Regions from separate parts of the Homo sapiens genome. Here all the other regions are linked to region 1. The links come from fine-mapping of genetic effects on gene expression. A gene starts in region 1. Each other region holds a variant in brackets. All regions are shown on one strand. Distances are between the middles of the regions. Region 1 holds the start of MTMR9 (myotubularin related protein 9). Region 2 overlaps LINC00529 (long intergenic non-protein coding RNA 529). Region 3 has its middle 38 kb from the start of XKR6.

Evidence for each region.
Region 2: its variant is fine-mapped to the expression of MTMR9 in stomach (GTEx, PIP 0.96).
Region 3: its variant is fine-mapped to the expression of MTMR9 in whole blood (INTERVAL, PIP 0.98).

What each region holds. Positions count from the first base shown.
Region 1 is chr8:11,279,866-11,287,865 of GRCh38, forward strand. It overlaps MTMR9 (myotubularin related protein 9), which reads left to right and starts at 4,951. Exons shown (of 10, transcript NM_015458.4): 1 at 4,951-5,205. The coding sequence starts at 5,024. LINC00529 (long intergenic non-protein coding RNA 529) reads right to left here and starts at 4,166. Exons shown (of 5, transcript NR_170283.1): 1 at 3,986-4,166; 2 at 1,424-1,556. RefSeq lists silencers at 1,088-1,137, 4,630-5,039 and enhancers at 3,920-4,009, 4,100-4,159, 4,435-4,936.
Region 2 is chr8:11,257,266-11,265,541 of GRCh38, forward strand. The region is part of intron 4 of LINC00529 (long intergenic non-protein coding RNA 529); the gene reads right to left. Among named protein-coding and RNA genes, the nearest start is that of LINC00529, 23 kb to the right of the region's middle. RefSeq lists an enhancer at 4,755-5,049. The variant G/A (reference allele first, on the strand shown) is at 3,753.
Region 3 is chr8:11,235,588-11,243,863 of GRCh38, forward strand. No RefSeq gene overlaps it. Among named protein-coding and RNA genes, the nearest start is that of XKR6, 38 kb to the left of the region's middle. The variant C/T (reference allele first, on the strand shown) is at 4,319.

The DNA.
Region 1 (8,000 bases):
TGATATTGACAATTTTCTTTCATGGGCAAAAAAGTTCATGGTGTTATAGAAAAGTAAACATTTTTCACTTAATGAAACCATGAGCTTTTCATGTGCCTCCCCCCACATAAAGAAACTAAAAGAAAAAGGTAATGGAATTACTGAAAAATGCATCCCCACCTCTAGGAGATATCACTAAATTGGACATCTCTGTCGGCCACATTCCATTCAGAGTGTGACCCTCATCCTTCAAGGTCCTGTTTTCAAATGATACCTTCTCCATAAAACGTTCCCTGATTCTTCACTCTGTAATTAAATTCTTCATTCCACAATTGGTAATTGTTATAACTTATCCACATAAATGAAGAAAGTCAAAAACTCCAGTTTAAAAAAATAACTTTGTAAATCATCCCCCCTCATCTTCCCTACTCTGTTGGTTCTTGTTTTTAGACTGGACTCTCAGGTGCAACAATATTATTGTTACTGGTGGAGAGTACTGACTACAAATCACCCAGGTTCTTGGCATTTTGAACAAAGAATTGGACAAAATTCACAAACAAAGCAACAAAAAAGTGAAGCGACAAAAGCATAGATTTACTGAAACAAAAGTACACTCCACAGAGCGGGAGCGGGCTCAAGCAAGTGGCTCAAGAGCGCTGGTTACAGAATTTTCTGGGGCTTAATTTTTTTATTTTTTTGAGGCGGAGTCTTGTTCTGTCACCCAGGCTGGAGTGCGGTGGCACATTCTTGGCTCACTGCAACCTACACCTCCCAGGTTCAAGCAATTCTCCTGCTTCAGCCTCCCCAATAGCTGGGATTACAGGCCCACACCACACCTGGCTAATTTTTGTAATTTTAGTAGAGATAGGGTTTCACCATGTCGGTTGGCCAGGCTAGTCTGGAACTCCTAACCTTGTGATCCACCCTCCTCAGCCTCCCAAAGTGGTGGGATTACAGGTGTGAGCCATCGTGCAGCATGGGGTTTAAATAGCCTCTAGAGGTTTCCCATTGGTTACTTGGTTACACCCTATGTAAATGAAGGAGTGGCCCGTCACAAGTCTGACTGATCATGGGAGGTGACCAATCAGAGTCTGAAGTGACGGTAGTTACAAAGTTACACATGAAGACTTGGCCTGCAACCAGTCTGAATGGTTGTGGGAGGGGACCAATCAGAGGTACTTTCCATTTTTCATTTGCAGTGCAGTGCAAAGGGAGTAGCCTCTGATCCTTTCGTTACATTCGTGTGAAGAGGTGGGGTTTCCCCTCTGATTCAGTTCTAGGAAGTCAGTGAGAATTGGCCTTAGGTTCCCTGCCTCTAGACCCTATTCTCCTGTCTCATTTTCCCGCTGTGAGACATGATCCCCATAAATCTTTATGGGAGGCAGAGGGACCAATGGTCTTTCTTCTGTAACTGCTTCATGCTGACTTGGGGTGCGGTGCCTACCTATTTGGGATCACAGAACTCTCACTCTGCTCTGTCTAGTGGATACAGGGTAGCTTCTTGATGGCCAGTAGTGGTGTCTTCACCTGAACTGGCTGGAAACCTTGTTGCATGATCATCTGAAGCTTGATGGTCTCTAGGCGAGAGGAAATTAATTTGGTTAATGTATTTAATAAATATGGTCCAAAAACCAAGGCAAGTATAATTAACAACGAGCCAGTCAGAGGAAGGACTCATGAACCCCTAATTAGCATTTTTGAACAGGAGGACCACGACTTGGACAGCTGTTGTCGTATCTTAGAAGCCTGGTCAGCTAATTTCTGGGTGGCATCCCTTACTAATTCTAATTGGTTGACATAAAAACAGCATTCTTCCTCTAGAAAAAGACATAAGCCACCTTTTCCAGCAGTTAGGAGATCCAGTCCCCTTCTATTTTGTAAAGCAACTGCTGCCAAGGAGTCTGTTTGAGTTTGTGTTGTGACGATACTTTGGGCAATGTCATCCAAGCTTTCCACAAAATCCTTGGAAAGTGCTGGTAACAGTATAGGGAAGTTGCAAGCCCGGTAACTCCCGTTCCTGCTCTCACTGTTATTCCTAGCCCAACAAAAAGGCGTTTGAGTTGGATTGCTCATTTGTGTCTGGCGGTTGCAGTTAAAGGTATAATGAGGGATTGGTTGTTGAGAGCTCTCCCTCTCTCTCTCTAAATATATATATATATATACACATATATATATAGTTTGTTTGTTTTGAGACAGTCTCCCTCTGTCACCCAGGCTGGAGCACAGTGGCTCAGTCTTGGCTCACTGCAACCTCTGTCTCCAGGGTTCAAGTGATTCTCCTGTCTCAGTCTCCAGAGTAGCTGGGATTACAGGTGTGCGCCACCATACCCGGCTAATTTTTTGTATTTTTAGTAGAAACAGGGTTTCAGCATGTTGGCCAGGCTGGTCTCGAACTCCTGACCTCAGGTGATCCGCCTGCCTCGGCCTCCCAAAGTGCTGGGATTATAGGCGTGAGAAACTGCGCCCGGCCGGGAGCTATATTGATTTCGGAGGCTAAAAACCAAGTGTACAGGTTCCAGTCCAATTGGCTGGTAAACACAGTAGGAACTGGTGCTGCACAGGGAAAAGGTTCCTTGTTTTTCAAGACAAAAATTGTTTTCCATGGTGAACATGTGGGTTAGCTTGTTGTTTTCACTTTCCCAAGTGGTTAAGTTTCCTACTAAAGTGGCCAAGCGAAAATGTCAACCCAGCTAGTGGGCCCACCTTCACAGTACTTAGACTGTGCATCCTTTAAAGTGCCCTTAACTAGGGATGGTTTCCATGAAAAGCATACAGGTTTTCTAAACGATGCAGTTTGGTTAATTGCATAGCTTACATGATTGTGTGAGGGTTAATTTCTGGGGTGTGGTTGCATTGAAGACTTCAAGTTCCCACGACCTGAACAGAATTTTGGCTTCTTTCAATACAAAGTGGCATCTGGAATTTTAGCTCTGTGTATGTTGATGTTGGGCCCCTAATGGGTTTCTGTGGGAATGCACCCTCAAAAAGGTTGCTCTGATTGGACTGGAGAGGGTTTACTGCTCATCCTGTCATTTTAACCTTTGTCATTTCCATACTTTTGAAGTCTTATAAGTCATCCAGATTCATTAATTCAAAGGGAGTTCCTCCCTGGTAGTTGGAATGATAGGTCATTTTTTTCAAGGACCCAAGATCGGGCTGGGATAGGGATGGCAGTGTATCTGGATGAAGATAGGAGATAAACAAAGCCAACAGTCCTTTGCCAGAGCTGAGCTGGTGGTATTTAACAGTCTTTGCATTAAATTTAAAGTTCTTAATAAATACCCAGAATCTATTAATTGCCAGAGGGGTAAAGTGAAGCTCTGTTGTAAAATAAAGCTGATTCCCTGTATGCGGTGTCCCTGTGTATACTGGGTGTATACTGGGTGTCCATTATGGAACAAAAAAAAAATACTTATTTGCTATTTTGTTCTATAGAATGGGAACTTCAGGGGGTGGATACCTGTGCTGTCAGGAATGCTAGTTATAAAAATGAATTAAAACACTTCATATATTACAAAGGAAGTGATTCCATCTATTTGGACGAAAGCAATTAAACTGCAAAAATATAAAAAATGGCAACTATTATTCAGTCTACAGTAACTATGCAACAAAGACACCAAGGAAAGTTGGTAGGCATTTACGTATCTCACTTAAAACAAGTCTATAAAGTGGTTTATTTTAAGAAGGGTACATTTTAAGAAGGACAAAATCAAAAGCATGGACAAGTGTTGGATGAGCTGATGAGGTTGTGGCAATTTACTTTGTGAATACTGTGAGAGTTTGTCCAACTCGCTGTGCTTAGGTACTAGATGGTGAGGATTTAAAAGGTCAATGAAGTCACAGCAGACCAGCACTCAAACATATTTCTCTTCTATTTCCTACTTTTGAATAAAAATGTCAGAAGTGGGCGGTGGGAAAGGAACAAGCAAAGGAGTAATTATTTGAATAAATTTTTGGCGAAACGTGGGTGTCTGACGGGGAGGCTGTGCGGTGGTGACCAACGCACCCATGCGCTGGGTTTCACAGATGCAGACTGAAGTCCAGGCTCTGCTGCAGATTAACGGGGTGGCCGCCAGCAAGTCAAGTGACTTGCTCTTCTGTGCACTGCATGTACTTGGGTTCCTCTCACAGGTATTCCTGTTTTTCCTCTTTCTTGCTCCAGGTTACACCTCGTGGCGCGGCGCTCTCGGAGAGCCTGTGGAGTGGCCCTGTGTCCCTCCCTGACCCCTGGAGGATTCCGTAAGGTCACAGTCACCGCCTCCATCCCCTACTTGCCATGTCTTCAGGGCTAATGCATAACAATTATCACAATTTACAGCAGCCCCACGCTCTGAAGAGCTTCTGGAGGGGATACTACTCAAGCGGAGGAAGGCAAGACAGGGACCTCCTCCCTCTTCCCGGACCTCTTCTGATAAGGAATATTTGTAGGTGGTTAAGAAAGGCAGCGGGAGGGCGTGAAGGCAAAGACAAGCTTTTTTTCTCGTAGGAACACACATCTTCTGGTCTGGCTGTGTTTCCGGAGGCATTTCCAGAGGACCTAGCGAGGACCAACTTCCGGCTGCGACTTCCGCGTCTTCCGAGTTTCGAGACCTGCTGCTTCCGCCCGGAGTTGTTGTGGGCTCCAGCAGCGAGTAGCCACTTCCGCTAGGAGTCCCTAGCGGCCAGGGCGTGGAAGCGGATTCTGAGGCGGCTTTCTCCTACTGCCCTCCGCTTGCCAACGCGGGACCCGGAGCCCAACGGCAGCGGCGGTCCTTGGGCCTGTGGAGAGGGGTTCTCTGTGGCCGAGTCCTAGGCCTGGTGAACCGCGCGGTGCGGGAGAGGCGCTTGGGCCTCGTCCAGCCCCAGCCCCTGTCTCCCCGCGGCCGGTGCCGGCGGCTGTAGGCCTCGCCGCGCCCACCCAGCCTGGGGCGGGCCCAGCCTCACCGCCCGGCCCGCCCCGCCCCACGGGCCAGCCCCGCGCCGGGTGTTTCCGCTACTTCCCTGCGGCGGGGTAACCGCCTCGCACCTACCGGGCTCGGTTCCCTGGCTCCGGCCGCGGGGGAGCATGGAGTTTGCGGAGCTGATTAAGACCCCGCGGGTGGACAATGTGGTGCTGCACCGGCCTTTCTACCCGGCTGTCGAGGGCACCCTGTGCCTGACGGGCCACCACTTGATCCTGTCCTCCCGGCAGGACAATACGGAGGAGCTGTGGCTCCTCCATTCAAACATCGACGCCATCGACAAGCGGTGAGTGCCCGCCCCACCCCAGCTCCGCAGGGAGCCGGGGGTCCCTTGTGGGCGCCCCGGGAAATACTTCCTGGCGTTTTCCGCGCAGCCTGCCGCCCAGCTAGCCGGCAAGATGAGCCCTCTGTGGCCTAGAATCAGGATTTACCAAGCTGAAACCCGTCCAGATGGAGGACCCGGTTTCCATTAAACCTGGATGGAGTTCTCAGGGTTATCGTGTGGCTGGTACCATCCTGATGATCATTTCTGGTTCGTAACACCATTTGGGTGGATTTTCGGCATTGTCTTTATAAATTTCTTCTTCTTCTTGCCCCATCGTATTCCTTGAATTGGTATTGTCAGTCACCGTTCATGAAGTGATTGGATGTGATTTAGGTAAAGTCTTTACCATTTCTGAGGAAAACTAAACAGATTATAAAGTTATGAGTGTCTACATGCTACAGAACCATTTTTTTAATTTCTGAAAAATGTTCAGTGTATCATATTATTTCTTACCTTCTGGGTCATCAAAATTTAATTCTCACTAAGGGAGATTCTGATGTCTTCTCTTCATCTTTACTCAATTCTGCTTGCTGAAAGAACAGGGTTGGCTCTCAAGGAAAGGCATGGACCAGTTAACCTCTTTTTTCTTTTTGTACTCCAGACTTTATCTTTCCAAGGCAGTGCCTCGAAGTCAAAAAGTTAAACTTTCATCTGCATTCAAAATTCCCATCTCCTTAGTGGCTACTCGCTAGCCAGGAGAGGGCAAACTGATTATCCGTTTTACACAGAAGTATAAATGAATGACGACAACATTTTCTATTGCCTCACAGGATAATTTGGATATTAGGAAGATTCGTACAGAGGATATGCCTTAAAATAATAATCTCTTTCTTTCTTTCTTTTTTTTTTTTTTTTTTTTTTGGAGACGAAATCTCACTGTATTGCCCAGGCTGGAGTGCGGTGGCCAATCTCGGCTCACTGTAACCTCCACCTCCCAGGTTCTAGCGATTCTTCTGTCTCAGCCTCCCGAGTAGCTGGGATTACAGGCACGCGCCACCACACCCGGCTAATTTTTGTATTTTTTAGTAGAGATGGGGTTTCACCATATTGACCAGGCTGGTCTTGAACTCCTGACCTCGCAATCCTCCCGCCTAGGCCTCCCACAGTTCTGGGATTACAGGCGTGAGCCACTGCGCCTGGCCTAAAATAAAAATTTCTAATGGTAGAATTGCAGGCAGTTTGGGTGAAGCCATGGTAGATTGATTGATTGATATGAGCAGGGGGCTCTTATTAGTCTCCTCAAGCCACCTTTTGCTGTATAAAGTCTTCAGTGGGCCCGGCACGGTGGCTCACGCCTGTAATCCCAGCACTTTGGGAGGCCAAGGTGAGCGGATCACCTGAGGTTAGGAGTTTGAGACCAGCCTGACCAACATGATGAAAGCCCGTCTCTACTAAAAATACAAAAAATTAACCGGGCATAGTGGCAGGTGCCTGTAATCCCAGTTACTCAGGAGGCTGAGGCGGAAAAATCGCTTGAACCTTGGAAGCAGAGGTTGCAGTGAGCCGAGATCGGGCCACTGCACTCCTTCCTTTGCAACAAGAGCAAAACTCCATCTCAAAAAAAAAAAAAAAAAAAAAAAAAGTCTTCAGTGGTCTCTCATTGAAAATCTAAACCCCTCAGTCATTCATGGCATTCTGTGTCTCGGCCCTATCCTACTTTCTCACTTTATTTCTTGCCATTTCTTTTAACGAGCCTTTCTTGCACTTGCTTTCATGAACGCTTTTTACCAGCCAGTCCTCACTATTTACTGGTGCTGGTATATGTCCTGTATTCTGTCATCTGTGTATTTTATTGACTTCTTCCTTCTGCTGGAATGCCTTGCCTCTCCCAAGTTTGTTTAACATTTGCCAAATGCCTTTATGTTCTGGACGTTTTGTTAGGCATTTAAGACACCAAGGTAAATAAAATATGTTACAGTTCTTGTCTTTCAGGAGTTCACAGGCAATGAGCCTGTTACCTGTCTATGAGTATTCAGTTTAACCATTTCGACCGCTACCTCCTTCACAAATTCTTCTGTTAATTCCACAACTGGAATTCATTTTTATCTCCTTCGAAACGTCTAACTGTGGCTTGGGCATATAGACGCGTAGGAAACAAAAGAAGGATTGACCGCTGAATGGTCAGATGCCGTTGAATACAACTGAGTAGTTTCTCCATGACCATCAACTACCTTTCCTTTCTTATTTACCTTTTATGGTGGTTACTTTGCGCTCATTTGTTTCCTCCTTTTTACCTTGCATTTACAAGGTGCTGGGCTTTGTAGTACATGAAGAAGAAGCAGATGAGCCATGGACCTTTGAATCTGTTAGGAGAGAATGACGAACTGTACACACATTTATCCTTTTCCTGGGAAGCAGCGTGGTGTAGTGAAAGAGCATAGGGGAGGCATCAGATCAGAGTTTGTTAAATTGCTGCTTTCAAGAAATCTTTACATCCACCTGTTTTCCACGTGCATTGTCTGAGCTGTGCGGCTGCAGTGGTGACTAAGACAAGATGCTTAGGTACTGGCCAGGGAGATGGACAATCAAGCAAGTCCAGAAATAAATATATATATTTATTAGATATATTTATATTTATTATGTTTATTATATATTATATATATTATAATATATATTATATATTATATATTATTTTCTTATATATTTATTATTTATTTATTATATATTTATTATATATTATATATAATACATATTATATAATACATATAATATATAATATATAACATTATATATTTTATTATATATGTTATATATTA
Region 2 (8,276 bases), 22 kb before region 1:
ATAAACATGAAATAAAATTTATCTCCAGTGTTTTTGTACCCAGGTGCTGATTCTTGTCTTTTTTTTATTTTTGTTTTTATTTTATTTTTTTGAGACAGAGCCTCACTCTGTCACCCAGGCTGGAGTGCAGTGGTGCCATCTCAGCTCACTGAAACCTCTGCCTCTTCGTTCAAACATTTCTTGTGCCTCAGCCTCCTGAATAGGTGGGATTACAGACATGCACCGCCACTCCTAGCTAATTTTTGTATTTTTGGTAGAGACAGGGTGTTGCCATGTTGACCAGGCTAGTCCTGAACTCTTGACCTCATGCGATTTGCCCTTCTTGGCCTCTCAAAGTGCTGGGATTGCAGACGTGCACCACCATGCCTGGCTAATTTTTGTATTTTTAGTAGAGACAGGATACTGCCATGTTGGCCAGCCTGGTCTAAAACTCTTGGCCTCATGTGATCTGCCCACCTCGGCCTCCCAAAGTGCTGGAATTACAGGTGTGAGCCACTGCGCCAGACCTGATTCTTGTCTTTCTAGCGTGTGTATGTCTCCCCAGCAACGGGCACGTGCATTGGTCTAGGCACCACCAAGGGGCTGTTTTAGAAAAATCAAACATGGTGGAGATTCAAAAAAATCTGTCAGGTTGTGAATTTGGGGCTAGATCTTGGAAACAGCATCAGAAAGTAAACTAAAATCCAGAGGAAGGGAACTTTTAGGGCAGTGAAACTATTTCCTATGTTACAATAATAATGGATACACATAATATATTTGTCAAAACCCAGCAAATGTACAACTCAAAGAGTGAAGCCTAATATAAACTACAGGCTTTAGTTAATAATAATTCTGTATCTTTTTTTGGTATTTTTATTTTATTTATTGGTAACTTTTTAAATTTTAAATTTGTAAATTTTTTTCTTGATAGTGTTGGTGAAAATCTTTTTGAAATATATTTTAATTCTATTTTTTCAATTGATAAATAATAATTACACAAATATGACAAATAATTTATGGAGTATGTAGTGATGTTCTCATAAATACAACGTGTAGACATCAGGTCACGGTAATTAGTGCATCCATCATCTGAAACATTTCATCACTTCTTTGCATTGGGAATGTTCAATATTTTCCCTCAGCTATTTGAAACAATATATTATTGTTAACTATCATCATTCGTATAGAACGCTAGATCGTATCAGAATTGGTTTGTCAGTTATAACAAACGTACCACACTAATACAAGATGTAAATAATAGGGAAATGTGAGGGGGGAGCCTGGGCAGGGAGAGATATGTGGGAATTCTATACTTTCCAATCAATTCTTCTCTAAGCCCAAAATTGCCCTAAAAAATTACAAATCATGCCTCACGGAGGAGAATCATGTAAGATGCTGGCCCAGACACAGTGGGCATGGCTGTGCCCATTCCTTCTCCTTCATTCATACCACACACCTGTGTCAGGGTCCTGGTGGCGCCACCATACATTGCTAGCTAGTGCCAGCGCAGGGTCTGAGCCTCTTCAGTGGCCACGCCTGCCAGCAGGCTCTGATGGGCTACCCCCACGTCCTGCACCCTTAGACTGCTTGATGCCTTGCCCAGGATGGCCACTGCGGTTACCCCTGAGTGACTGGGGTGAAGTGGATCGGAAATGCCTCCCCTGCCATCTGCAATGCATTTCAGGAATCTCTTCCAAAGGTCCTGAAAGTTTGAGCAGCAACTGCACTGGCTGTGACTGCCTTGATGACCCCCCGCCGTGGGCTGGCTTTCTACCTTCCTCTGAGTCACTCCTCCTACCCCTCACTCCTGCTCCCTAGGACGACTTCCCAGAAAAAGTCCTGAATGCAAGTCTTCACCCCAGACTCTGCTTAGGGGAAGAGACACATTTAAGTGCATTTAAACCTGTACGTGTAGGCATGTGTCACACCAAACAATGTTAAAATGACAACACTACTCAGCCCTTTGAAATTTGAATTTTCTAAACAGAACTAATCTTATCAAGTATATTAGGTCTATTTGTACTATCTTCATTTGAGTGTTATAAATATATATATATGTTTCTATGGGCAAAAAGACATAAGCCAAAACCACGAGCATGTACTTTCTTTCTCTTTGTTTATAATTTAAAATATTTTCCTTGGAAAATTTCCAGATACATAAAGACTATTCTCTAATTACTTCAGCTGATAATCAGCTAAAGGTCTCAAGTCAGTTAGGCATCTTAGAACATCTATTTTAATTTGACATTAAAGAAAATATAATCACTGTAATTATTAGAAATAAAACTCTTTAAAACTCCCACAGTAAAGGTGAAGTGATTCTATAGGCTCACCTAACTAGCAGTGTTTTATATGAAGACATCAATTGTTACAGCTTTCATTAAATAAATACATACGTTTACATTTCTAGTCTTAAATATATGGTGTTAGCACTGATAACCTACCTGACAAGTAGAAGGACCTTAGGATATTCTATTTAGTTAAGCTTGAGATAAGATGATAATTCCAAAATTATGCATAAAGAGTTACATTTATACTATGTTCTTACACCGTGATAAAATCAAAGAGAAAATATGTAGCTATCTATTTTGCCAAGATCTATAATTCATTAAGTATGCATGATGGATTTTTATATAATTCTTCTGTATTTATTTTTAGTAAGTAATACTGAATTCCTTTACATTTTACCTAAATTTCTAACACGGAAGGGTGTTTTGTGAAGCCGTCATCTGACTACTAATTGGTGGCTTAATGATTATTTACACCTCTTTCTTCTCTTGTAATTCAACAGTAGGAAGTCCATGTTATTAAACTAACATTTGCATTTTTCCTTTTTCTGATCCAAAAGCTTTTTAGAGAGAGATGTAATTTAATATTAGAAAACAGGAACACTTTTCACAGTTCTATTAATGACTTAATTGTTTATACATAGTTTAAATTTTTTTAATTTTATGCTAATTAGGGTAATATATACCTTTATTTTTATCATCTTAACCATTATGAAGTTTATAGTTATAGATGTTAAGTATATTCACATTGTTTTGAAAGATATATACTTTTGATGAATGTCTTAATAATTAAATTAATTTGAAAAAATCTGTTCTCATTTGAAAATCTCCTTTTCCAAGAAGGAAACTATTGGATGTTTCAGTTTCCAGAAGACAGATTTCTTTAAACCCTTTAAAATATCCATACGTGTCATTACAATATATAGCTTTTCAGCTAGGTGCATTTAGGCAAATTTCACACTTTATTTCTGTCAGGTGGAAAGGTTTTCCTAAAGGGCCACGTGTCTAAAGCATTTTGTGTTTTGGCATAATTTCTTAAACTTTTTTGCGCTTTGGGGGGTCTGAGATTCTTTATCTTATTCATTAATGTTCTTTTTAACTTCTAGAAACCATCAAAATAGGAGCTGTATTGAATTTGCAAGACTTTCCAACTGTATTTGCTAATTCCCTTGGGAGACAGACTATCCCAACTATTCCCATTTTCATTTCTGCACCATTTTGTTAGCTGTGGTAGGGATGTAATCAGTTCACACATCTGGTATCGCATGGATTGGCTAGTGTTAAAGGTTTCACAAATTACTACGAACACTTTTTATTTTTGAAATTGAAGGGCTCTTAATTAGTTTAAAAATAGCTATCAACTTGCTTATAACCAGTATTTGTATGTTGCTACTTGTTCTCTTCCTAAAGGTGGGGAAGTGACATTTGACAACAGAGACCTATCTCCGAAAGAGTTATTTGAGAAAGGGTGTTGTTGGATCAGTC[G/A]GACTTCCTGTCCTGATTGCAGTAGTGGGTGGGGTGAATTTCCTTCTAGCAGCGTGGAAAAGGGGCATGGGAATCAATGCAGGTGGAACAGTGGTTCCTGATGTGACGTAGGCAACCATTGGACATTGGGCTTTTTTACATCCTCAGATTCAAGAGCCTCTTGAAAATGTCTCATTTTGATCATATCGAGTTCTGTCTGTGAAAGCGATGGCAAGTCTGGGTTAACTAGTGAACTAGTCTAGTCGAGTTAGCTTAAGACTCTTTCTTATAATGCATGGACATGTAAAAATCAGGAATTTCTTGGTGAAAAAATTTGTTTCCTTAGAACCAGAACAACCCATAATGCAAACGCATAAAAAAGATTTGCAAATTGATGTCCTCAGTCTCTCTAGATACATTTCAGGTGTTCAAGATCCACGTATAGCTAGTGGTGACCATATTGACATCATGGAAATACCTACTGGGCCGTGCTGGTTTACACCATACTCTCTGAAACACCGCTTAGGCATTCACCCCATGATTCTGTGTATGACTGCTTTTAGTAGCTGCTGCTGCTATTTGCTACCACGAAGGCCGCCTCCTCCTCCCGTGGTCGGTAGGTAAGTTTAGGTTCTTGATCTCACCACACAAAAGAATTTGAGAGTGACTCCAAAGGAAGAGTAGCCAAAGAAGCTTATTGTAAAGCGAAAGTACCCTCTGAGAGGCTGAGTGGGCTGCTTAAAGGGAGAGACAGCAACTAGTGCCTTCAGAGGAATTCCTTTTGCGGGAATTGTTCGTATATATTCATAAAATACTGGTGAGGTCAAGTACGTAAAGACAGACCTGCGGTTGACACATGCGCTCAGCATCTGCATGCTGTAACATGCAATGCATGTATCATTAGCATATAAAATCTCCGCCTAGGGGTGTGTTTTTTTACTATTAAAATGAAGAAAAGGTTACTATGAGCTAAACCTTGAGCCTAGCTGCACAGGTGGGACCCTGGAGCAATCCTCAGCCCTCCTGCCCCAAGGCAGTAATTTGCAGCTAATAGCTTCTTGGGTTTTGGATGCTGATTGGCTAGGTACTGGGGAAGCTACATTATGAATAAGTCTCTTTCCCGGGCTGTGCTAGCTATTAGGAACTTGTAACCATCAGGCAGTTGGCTGGTGTCCTGCAGGACTGTTTATCTTGCAAAAGAGTCAGGCGCTGACGTAAGAGGGTGCAAGGGATGCGGAGCCCACTAGGCTTTACGCCAGGGGAAAAGTCAGTAAGTGAGTATGGCCTCCTAACCTTCCTTATCCTGCTTCACTCCTCCTTACTTTTCTTTTTGTGGCCGTTTTATTGAGGTACAGTTTACATACTGTACAATTCATCAGTGTAAAATGTACAATTCAGTGGTTTTTAGTATATTCACAGAGCTGTGCAACCGTCACCATAATCCACTGTAAACATTTTCATTACCTCAAAAAGAGACTCCCATTTGCTTTAGTCTTCACTCCCCAATTCCCCCATACTCCTGGCTCTAAGCAACTACCAATCTATTTTCTGTCCCTTTATTTTGCTTATTCTGGACATTTCATATAAATGGATCATGTCATGGGTGGTCTTTCGTGACTGTTTACCTCCCATGATATTTTCAAGTTTCATTCATGTTGTAGCGTGTATCAGGACTTCATTTCTTTTTGTGGCCAAATAATATTTCATTTTATGGATATATCACCTTTTGTTTGTCCATTCACAGTTCATAAATATTTGGGTTTCCATCTTTTGCTTTATGACTAATGCTGCTATAAATATTCATGTACAAGTTTTCATATGGACATACGTTTTCATTTCTCTTGGGTGTATACCTACTAGTGGAATTGCTGCTCAAATGGTTACTCTATGTTTAGCTTTTTTGAGAAACTGCCACACTGTTTTCCAAAGTGACTGCATCGTTTCTACATTCTCACCAGAAATGTATGAGGGTTCTAATTTCTCCATATCCTCACCAAAGTTTATTATCTTTTTGATTATAGCCATCATGGTAGGTGCTAAGAGGTATCTTCTTGTGGTTTTTAATCAAAAAACGAGTGTTAGGTTTTGTCAAGTGCTTTTTCTGCATCTATTAATATGAGCATGTGGCTTTCGGTTTTTATTCTATTGATAGGGTCTGTTACAATAATTAATTTACAGGTGTTAAGCTAACCTTGCCTTCCTGGAATAAATCCCACTTGGTCATAGTGTATGATTCTTTTTATATGTCACTGGATTTGATTTGCCACGATTTTGTGGAGGATTTTTGTATCCATAGTAATAAGAGATAGTGATCTGTAGTTTTCTTTTTTTGTGATGTCTTTGGTTTTGGAATCAGGGTAATACTGACATCATAGAATGAGCTGAGAAGCATCCCTTCTCTCCCGTTTTTTGGAAAAGTTTGTGAAAAACTGATATCGTTTCTATAATTCTAATAATTTAAGTCTTCTTTCTTATGTCTTGGTTGAATTCTGTTATTTTTGTTTACCTTTCCAAAGAACCAGCTTTTGGATTCACTGATTTTTCTTTACCATTTTGTATTCTCTATTTCATTAATTTCCATTCTAATATTTACTATTTCCTTTCTTTTTTGAATTAGGTTTAGTTTGGTCTTCTCTTTCCAGTGTCTTAAGATGGAAGTAATTGTTCTGAGTTTTTTTTCTTTTTTAATATAGGCATTTACTGCTATAATTTTTCCTAGGCAGTTCTTCAGCTGAATTCCATAAGTTTTGGAATGTTGCGGTTTCCATTTTAATTCAGTTCAAAGTATTTTCTAATTTTCAGTTTGATTTTTCTTTTGACCTACTGGCTATTTAGGAGTATGTTGTTCAATTTCTACATATTTGTGGGTTCCCCAAATTACTTTATGTTTTTGATTTCTAATTTAATTCCAGTGTGGTTGGAGAAGATACTATGTATCATTTCAATCCTTTTAAATTTACTGAGGTTTGTTTTATGACCTAGCATAAAGCCTTCCCTAGAGAACATTCCATATTCACTTGAAAAGAACATACATTTTGCTATTGTTTGATAGAGTGTTCTAGAGCTATAGCAGATTTTTTGAAACTCACTCAGGAAAATCTCAAATGTGTGCAGAAGTAGAGATAATAATATAATAATTGTGAGTTGAATTGTGTTCCTCTTCCAAAATATTGAATTCCTAGCCCCCAGTGTCTGTGAACAAAGGGTTTTTTGTGGGGAGGAGGCACATGATTAAGTTAAGATGAGGTAGTAGGGTGGGCCCTATCCAATATGATGGCTGTCATTTAAAATGGGAGAAATTTGGACACAGAGACAGTCATGAACACAAGAACACCATGTGAAGATGAAGGTGGAGATTTTGGAGATGTAACTACAAAGCAAGGAGCGCCAAAGATTGCTGGCAAACCACCAGAAGCCAGGGAAGAGGCATGCAACAGGTTCTTGTCCCTTAGAAGGAACCAATCCTGCTGACACCTTGATCTTAGATTTTCAGCTCCCAAAACTGTGAGACAGTAAATTTCTGTTGGGCCAGGTGCAGTGACTCTCGCCTGTAATCCCAGCACTTTGGGAGGCTGAGGTGGATGGGTCACCTGAGGTCAGGAGTTTGAGACCAGCCTGACCAACATGGCGAAACCCTGTCTCTATTAAAAATACAAAAATTAGCCGGGTCTGGTGGCAGGTGCCTGTAATCCCAGCTACCTGGGAGGCTGAGGCAGGAGAATCACTTGAACCTGGGAGGTGAAGGTTAGCGTGAGCCGAGATCACACCACTGCACTACAGCCTGAACAACAGAGTGAGACTCAGTTTCAAAAAAAAAAAAAAAAAAAATTATATTGTTTAAGCCACTCTGTTTATGGAAAACACTTACGTACTCAGCACTCAGATTCAACGACCTTTCAGCCAGTTGTATCTTCACCACAAGCCAGAGCTCAGTGGCTCCCAGGCATTATAACAACACGGACCCTCTGGTCAATGTTGGACTTTCAGGTGAGAAAGTTTAAAGGCAAAAAGACATTTTGGCATGCTGCCACAGTGTCCTTTGGTCAGGAGGTGAAAAGCAAGTTCTGAGTATTGGACTTCCAAAACTGTAAAAGACAAAAAGTCAACACAGTTGAGCTGATGGGGTTTGGCTCTGTGTCCCTACCAAATCTCCTGTCGAATTGTAATCCCCAGTGCTGGAGGTGGGGCTGGGTGGGAGGCGATTGGCTCGTGGGGGTGGAGTTCTCATGAATGGGTTAGCGCCGTTCCCTGGGTGCTGTTCTCGTGATAGTGAGTGCGTTTTGGTGAGATCTGGTTGTTTAAAAGTGCGCAGCACCTCACCACTCACTCTCTTCTTCCTGCTCTGGCCATGTGAGATACCTTGCTCCCCTTTTGCCTTCTGCCATGATTAAAAGCTTCCTGAGGTCTCCCCAGAAGCAGAAGCCTCTATGCTTCCTGTACAGCCTGGAACCATGAGCCAAGGAAGCCAATCTTTTCTTTATAAATTATGCAGTCTCAGGCATTTCTTTCTAGCAGTGTGAGAAGGGACTGATCCATGAGGCTTGT
Region 3 (8,276 bases), 44 kb before region 1:
ATACTAAGTATTGGAGATCTGGAACTCTCATCGACTGTTGATAGGAGTGTATATTGGTAGGACCACTTTGAAAACCTGTTCTACAGTCTCCATAAAGCTGAACATATGCCTGCTGTAATGACCCGGCATTTCTATTCCTAGGTGTATACACCACATAAAAAGGTACACATATTCACCAGAAGACACTTAAACGACTATTCGTGGCTGCATTGGGCATAGCAGCCAAACACTTGTACACAGCAGAATAGGTATTTAACTCTAGGGGCTGCTATGTAGGAATGAGAATTAATAAAAACAGCCACACATAACAATACAGAAAACTCTTATGAGCATAATGTCAAGTGAAAAGAAGCCAGATACAAATAAGTACCTATTATATGATTCCATGTTTATAAAGTTTTGAAATAGACAAATGATTCTAGGTTGTTAGAAGTCATGAAGACATACTCTTGAGAGTTTAGTGATTGGAAGAGAGTGTAATGAGGGCCCCTGAAGAGGTGGCAGCTGGCAATGTTCTTTTTCTTTTTCTTTTTTTAAGACAGGGACTCACTCTGTCATCCATACTGGAGTGCATGGTGTGATCACAGCTCACTGCAGCCTCAACCTCGTGGGCACAAGCAATCCTCCCACCTCAGCCTGCTGAGTAGCTGGGACTACAGACATACATCACCACACTTGTCTAATTTAAAAACAAGTTGTGGAGACAGTCTCACTTTGTTGCCCAGGCTGGTCTTGAACTCCTGGGCTCAAGTGATCCTCTTACCTTAGCCTCCCAAAGTGCTGACATTACAGGCATGAGCCACTGCACCTGAACAATGCTCTGTTTCTTGATCTGGGTATAGATTCCATGGGTGTGTGTCTTTTGTAAAAAATTATGCACCTTGTGATAACACTTGTGACTTGTATACTTTTCTGTATGTATATTATATTTCAATAAAAAGTTAAAAAGCCACGATAATGAAAAGAAAAGGCAAAATAAGCAGAACCTTGGGCCCTACCCAGGCACACTGAATTCATTCCCTGGGGTAAGAGTCAGGCTGTAGCCGGCCTCCAATGGCTCCCTCTGATCTTTACTTCCTAGTATCCACAATCTTGTGTAGCCATCTCACTCACCAAATAGAGCTGCCCTGTGTAACCAGTAGGATATTGTGGAAACAATGCAATGTGACTTCTGGATCTAGGCCATATATGGCATTTTGGCTTCTATCTTGCTCTCTCTCTCTCTCTGAGGAAAGCCACCATATCATGAGGACACACAAGAAGCTTTATAGAAAGGTCCGCGTGGTGAGGAACTGAGGTCTCCTGCCAACAGCCAGCACCACCTCGCCAGCTATGTGAGAGGCTCCAGCCCCAGTCAAGACTTCAGATAACAGAAGCCCCTACTGACATCTTGACTGCAATCTCATGAGAAATCCCAGTGTCAATACTAACACCACCTAGGAAAACTGCTGCCACACTCTAGACCCACAGCAACGTCGTGATATAATAAAGGTTTGTGATTCAAGCTGCTAAGTTTTGGAGTAATTTGTGAAGCAGTAATACATAAACAATAAGATCAAGACATACATTTTTTTAAAACTCCTAGATTTGGATGTGCAGCTATGCTCGGGAGCCTTTGGCATGGTATTCTGCTCCTATAAGTATAGCAGCTATCATTTTGTGCTATTGATATTCCTTGCTGGTCTTCACTGCTCAGGTGTGTGCTCACTCAGTGAAGGAATGATGTTTTGTTCATCTGGGTACCTTCAGTACTCAGAGAGAACCTGGCACAGAATGAGTGGTCCATCAGTATTTGTTTAATTGGAGTGACCCTTCCAATAAACACAGAGAGTAGGACCTACGACTGCCATCAGCCACCTAAACCATTTCAATGTATCTTTTTCATTCAAATAGTTTATTTTATTTTTATTTATTTATTTTTTGGGGGACAGAGTCTCACTCTGGCACCCAGGAGTACAGGCTGGAATACAGTGGTATGGTCACAGTTCACTGCAATCATGAACTACTCTGGGCTCATGCGATAATCTCATCTCAGCCTCCTGAGTAGCTGGGACTACAGGCATGTGCCATCATGCTTGGCTGATTTTTTTTATTTTTTGTAGAGACAAGGTTTCACTATGTTGCCCAGGCTGGTCTTGAACTCCTTGACCCAAGCTATCCTCCCACCTCAGCCTTCCAAAGTGCTGACATTACACATATGAGCCACTGCACCTGGCCTCAATATATTTTAAAAGAGTCTACTTTGAGCCCAACACTGGGCTCATGCTGGAGTTGCAAAGAAGAGGAATGTCAGCCCTTGTAGCCAGGTACTTGGTCAAGCAGGTGACATCAAGGCGGCAGACATTGGAGACACGCAGGGGCACATGCCAGGGTTTGTCTAGGAGCCTCTGATGAAGTGATCAGTTCAGCTTAGGAGGGCTGAGATGTTTCCAAGAGTAAGCAACGCTTGAGCCATGACCCAAAGAGTGACTGGGGGTGGGCCAGCTGGACAAGGAAGAAAAGGGTATTTGGGGAAGAGAAAAGAACCATGTGCCTCAGCAGAATGACTTGAAATCACATGCAGTATTGGAGTAAAATGGCAGGAGGGTGAGAGATGAGTATGGTGGTAAGGAGGTTGGATGTATTCTGTAGGTAACAGGATCACCGAAGCATGAAGTAGAATTTAACACAACCCAGTTTACAATTTTAGAGAGATACCTCTGTTTGCAGTGTGGATGATGGATTATAAGGAAACACTGAAGATTGCAGGGCCTCTTGGAGAAGGTAAGGACATTGTAATTGTCCAGGCAGGAGAAGGTATGGGCTGGCTAGGCAAAGTCAGGAAAAGGGGGAGGAGGGCACAGGTGTGAATAGGATGCTCCTACAGGCCGAAAATAAAGTTGAAGGACTGGAATCTGAAGCTTCTCCACCTTCTCCAGTAAGAAGGTTGGAGGAAGGAAGGTGAGTATGAGATATATTATCCAGGCAGTGTGTTCTTTTAAAAATTTCCTCCTAAGAACCAGAAAAAGATGGAAAAGCAAAAAGGCGAGGAGGGGTGGGATTCAAGAAGAAACTCAGTACATATGCTAATGTCACTTGGGAACTGTAAGCAGCTCACAATTTCCATCTATTATCATGGGTGAAGATATATTTCCAGCCGAAAAGAATAATTTTTAAAACATGGGTGTGAAATAAATGAGCACATGAAACCGTGTTGTCCAAAAAAAAAACCCCAGCAGAATGTTTTCCTTAGAAAGCAGCCTTTGGGTGACACTGCCAGCAGCCTGCAGCCCTAGCAAGGATCTGTGCTTTTGTCACTCTGTGATTTGCAATGGGAAAGAAGCTCGCTTATCTAAGAAATGCATCTGAAACTCCATGGCTGGCAGGTGCTTAAGAGCACGGAACAGATGTCTGTCGAATGTACCAAAAGTCGTAGATATATATTGGAAAGTACAGATGCACTACATCTTTGCTACCGTAGTAGAGAAAATATCTCAGATATGCACCAAGGGGCTTCATGCATTGACCTTGCTGACTTCTCTTCTACAGGACTTGGAGCCCGCGATGGGAGCTACTTAGAGACCTGTGTTCACTGGCATTCTGAAGGACCTTGCTGACCCCATCTCCAAGCAAGACTGGAGCCAGCTAACCAAAGATTTCGGTATGGTGTCTGAGGTTCTCTCCAGTCTCATGAGCCTTGCATTTGCTGGTGTTAATGCTGCATCCCGAGTCCCCCTTTTCTCACCTGCCTCCCTCTCACAAGTTTTGGAGCACTAACCTGTTGCCTCTCAGGCTCCACTGCTGTCTAGTCCACCAGTCTTACTGACAAGGCCCCAGTGTACTTTTTTTGGCTGCCTGGCATCCCTTAGACACCTCTCCAGGTTGACTCTCCTCAGTCCTGGAATCCACTCACTCCCCTTTCTCTTTTGGCAGAGAGATGATGTCTTAGTCCATTTGGGCTGCTATAATGAAACAGCACAGTCTGGGTGGCTTATCAACAAGAGAAATTTCTTTCTCACAGTTGTGGAGGCTGGAAGTCCAAGTTCAAGATATCAGCAGAGTTGGGTTCTCCCGAGACCTCTCTCCTTGGCTTGCAGATGGCTGTCTTCTTTTTTGTCCCCACACAGTCATCCCTCTGTGCATGGCTGTATCGTAATCTCTTTTTTTTTTGAGACAGAGTCTCGCTCTGTTGCCCAGGCTGGAGTGCAGTGGCACGATCTCAGCTCACTGCAAGCCCTGCCTCCTGGGTTCATGCCATTCTCCTGCCTCAGCCTCCCCAGTAGCTGGGACTACAGGTGCCTGCCACCATGCCCAGCTAATTTTTTTTTTGTATTTTTAG[C/T]AGAGATGGGGTTTCACTGTGTTAGCCAGGATGGTCTCGATCTCCTGACCTTATGATCAGCCCACCTCAGCCTCCCAAAGTGCTGGGATGACAGGTGTGAGCCACGACACCCGGCCCGTAGTCTGTTTTTATAAGGACACCAGTCATATTAGATGAGGGCCCATCCCAATAACCTCATTTAAACTAAATTACCCTTTAAAACCCCTATTTCCAAATACAGGCCCATTCTGAGTTACTGGGGGTCAAGGCTTCAACATAGGAATTTGGGGAGACACCATGCAGCCCATAACATGAGCTATTGTGTTAGACTCCTAACTTCTCTCTGTGCCTTTTTCCTCACCCTCTGGTCCAGCTGCATGGTACTTCTACCACAATCTTCCTCGAACACACGTCTGAGCATGCTGCTTTCCTGCTCAGCATCCCACACAAATGTTCGTGACTCCCTGGCTTGGTAACAAGGACCCCCATATTCCACTCCAAGCAGCTTCTGCTGGAGCTCTGACTCCCACCAGCTCTGCCTCAGAGCTCTTCCCCCATCTTGGCCACTTCCTCTATGTACCTTCTCCACATGATGATGTGAATGGAGCTTGGATGACCTGCTCTTCACACACTTCCTCTAAGGTACAAAGTGGGCAACAGCTTTCCACAGGAAAACACCATGGCATGAGATGTTGACTTGAGCAGCAAAAGACCATGGAGAAAATTGTGAGAAACCTGCCTGGGAAGCCAAAGGGCTACTTGCACTTTGTTAAGTCCTTCTCTCCATTTTGTCTTCTTCAGAACTTGCCTTTTGCTCCTCCTCCCTCAAGCAGATGGTTGAAGATATATGATCACATTTTTAAGTTGAGTGTGAATGGGATTGAATTCACTCACAGCTATTTGGGGCCTTATTGCAGGAAGTCAGGGACCCCGAACGGAGGGACTGGCTGGAGCCGTGGCAGAGGAATATAAATTGTGACAATTTCATGGACATTTATCAGTTCCCAAATAATACTTTTATAATTTCTTATGCCTGTCTTTACTTGTGTCTTAATCCTGTTACCTTCATAAACTGAGGATGTACGTCACCTCAGGACCACTGTGATAATTGTGTTAACTGTACAAATTGATTGTAAAACATGTGTGTTTGAACAATATGAAATCAGTGCACCTTGCAAAAGGACAGAATAACCACGATTTTTAGGGAACAAGGGAAGACAACTATAAGGTCTGACTGCCTGCAGGGCTGGGCAAAAAGAGCCATATTTTTCTTCTTGCAGACAGCCTATAAATGGATGTGCAAGTAGGAGAGATATCGCTAAATTCTTTTCCTAGCAAGGAATATTAATATTAATACCCTGGGGAAGGAATGCATTCCTGGGGAGAGGTCTGTAAAAGGCCACTCTGGGAATGTCTGTCTTATGTGGTTGAGATAAGGACTGAGATATGCCCTGGTCTCCTGCAGTACCCAAAGGCTTACTAGGGTGGGGAAAAATTCCATCCTGGTAAATTTGTGGTCAGACCGGTTCTCTGCTCTTGAACCCTGTTTTCTGTTGTTTAAGATGTTTATCAAGACAATACGTGCACCGCTGAACATAAACCTTTATCAGTAGTCCTGCTTTTGCCGTTTTGTCCTGTTCCCTCAGAAGCATGTGATCTTTGTTCTGCTTTTTGCCCTTTGAAGCATGTGATCTTTGTACCTACTCTCTGTTATGACACCCCCTCCCTCCCCTTTTGAAACCCTTAATAAAAAACTTGCTGGTTTGAGGCTCAGGTGGGCATCACGGTCCTACCGATACGTGATGTCTCCCCTGGCGGCCCAGCTGTAAAATTCCTCTTTGTACTCTTTCTCTTTATTTCTCAGCTGGCCAACACTTATGGAAAATAGAAATAACTTACATTGAAATATTGGGAGTGAGTTCCCCAGATAGGGGCTTCCATGGACTGAATTGGGTCCCCTCCCAAATTCATATGTTGAAACACTAACCTCTAATGTGACTGTGTTTGGAGATAGAACGTTTAGAGTAGTGATTTAAGGTTTAAAAAGAGTGAGGCGCTAATCTGATGGGGCTGGTGTCCTTACCAGAAGAGTAAAAGATATGAGAGGGCTCTCTCTCCACTTACCCACAAAGGAAAGGCCATGTGAGGATGGCGCAAGAAGGTGGCTGTCTGTAAGCCAGAAAGAGAGCCCTCACCAGGAGCCAAATCTGCTGGCACCTTAATGTGGAACTTCCAGGCTCCAGAGCTGTGAGAAAATACATTTCTGTTAAGTTATACAGTCTATAGCATTTTGTTATGGCAGCCTCAGCAGACGAACACAGGGGCTTTCCCAAAAGGAGTTGCATGTTTTGCCTGGTTTTGCTGATAGTGAGACCTGCATGGCTCATTCATCAGCAACTCTTCCTTTGTATGAGCATCCTGGCTTGGACTCCTGATGTCTGTCCCTCCAGAGGTGGATGTAGAGTGATCCCTTAAGGAGGCCATTATCACTGACCAGTGACAGAGAGAGGAACAAGCCCCTTTCCTTCCTGACCCATGAGACTGGTGTTGGTTAGGAAATATCAAGAGCTGGGAAAGGTTTGAGATTTCACCCTACTTGCAGTCTAACAAGTTAGCCTGCCACACTTTCAAGGTTGCTGGCAGAAGACACAACAGAGGCAGAGACAAAGGACTTCATTACTCATAGCAATAGCAGTAACCAAGTGTCAGCATTTGTGTTCATCTCCCCAGTCCCAATTCCTGCAGGCTAATGTGACAAGAGCCAGGTGTTATCTCCAGAGGCAGTGGGTGACTTTCCTAGAGAAGAAGCTCAAGCTTTGGAAGCCCAAGCCTTTTATATTGGGCAGTAAGCTTGTATGAACTTTGCTCTGGAGGGAGACGAAATCTTTATCATTTTAGACAGTAAACAAGCCTGCCCTTTGCTGCTGATGGAAACCCTATTGCTCTCTTACAAGGCTGCTTGCCATACAAGTACCCTGGTGGTGTATCTAGTGAGATGTGTATGCTAGTGCCTCTGCTTCTCTGATTGAACTCTGATCGACACTGGCCCCTAATCCGTTTCAATAAGCTATGCTATTTATTATCCCTAGGAAATATTCCTTCTAGATAATGGAAATGGTCCTGGGACCTACACTTAAACATAAATATCTGGTGTCCTGGAACTTGACAATATGTCTATTGTGAAATGTAGGTTTCAACATGATTCAGAAGGCAACTGCCATTGAAAAGATAGTTTGTTACTCACAGTTCCCAAGAGAAGGGGCAAGGCATGCCACACCACGTGATGGTGGGAGTGGGGGACACATGGAGAAGCACTGGGGTTGACCAGGAGGCAAAGGTAGAGAGGAGAAGTGTGGGTAATAGCCTTTACTGTGACTTCTGCAGGAAAGAATAGGTGAGGCAGGTGAGCAGGCTCAGGATTGGCTAGTGTGAATCCTTTCAGTGGGCTCTGGGGCATAAAGGCTGCTCCTAGTTGCCTGGAACGTAGCCTTGCAGTGATGGTGGCCCAGAGTGCAGGAGCCCCACAAAGGAGGTGGTTGGGAGGTGGGGTCTGGGTGGCTTGGTTCGCATGTCAAAGGCATGCTCACAGAAGAGCTCTTTGCTTCCACTAAGAATTGGCTAACCCTGGGTGGGGCAGTCCCTCCAGCATCAACAAGTCCCCAATATGGCCAAGCCTCAGAATAAAAAGGCTTGCTTAATACGACATCACACAAAAACTACACCTCACTGTGAAGACCTAACTCCAGAAGAATGTGGAAAACTAACCAAACACCTTGCCTGACATCATCACTCAGCCTTCTGCCCTCTCGGTTAATCCAAGGTAGCTGGGCAGCATATCAGCTAAGGCACTTCCAGAGTTTAAAAGCATCTCACTACATAGCTGGTCAGTCAGTCAGCAAGTGTCCCGAGTGGGTGCTGTGAGTGAGGCATGGTAGGGGGTGCTGGGGAGATGGGGGGAACCAAACACACCTGGCCCTGC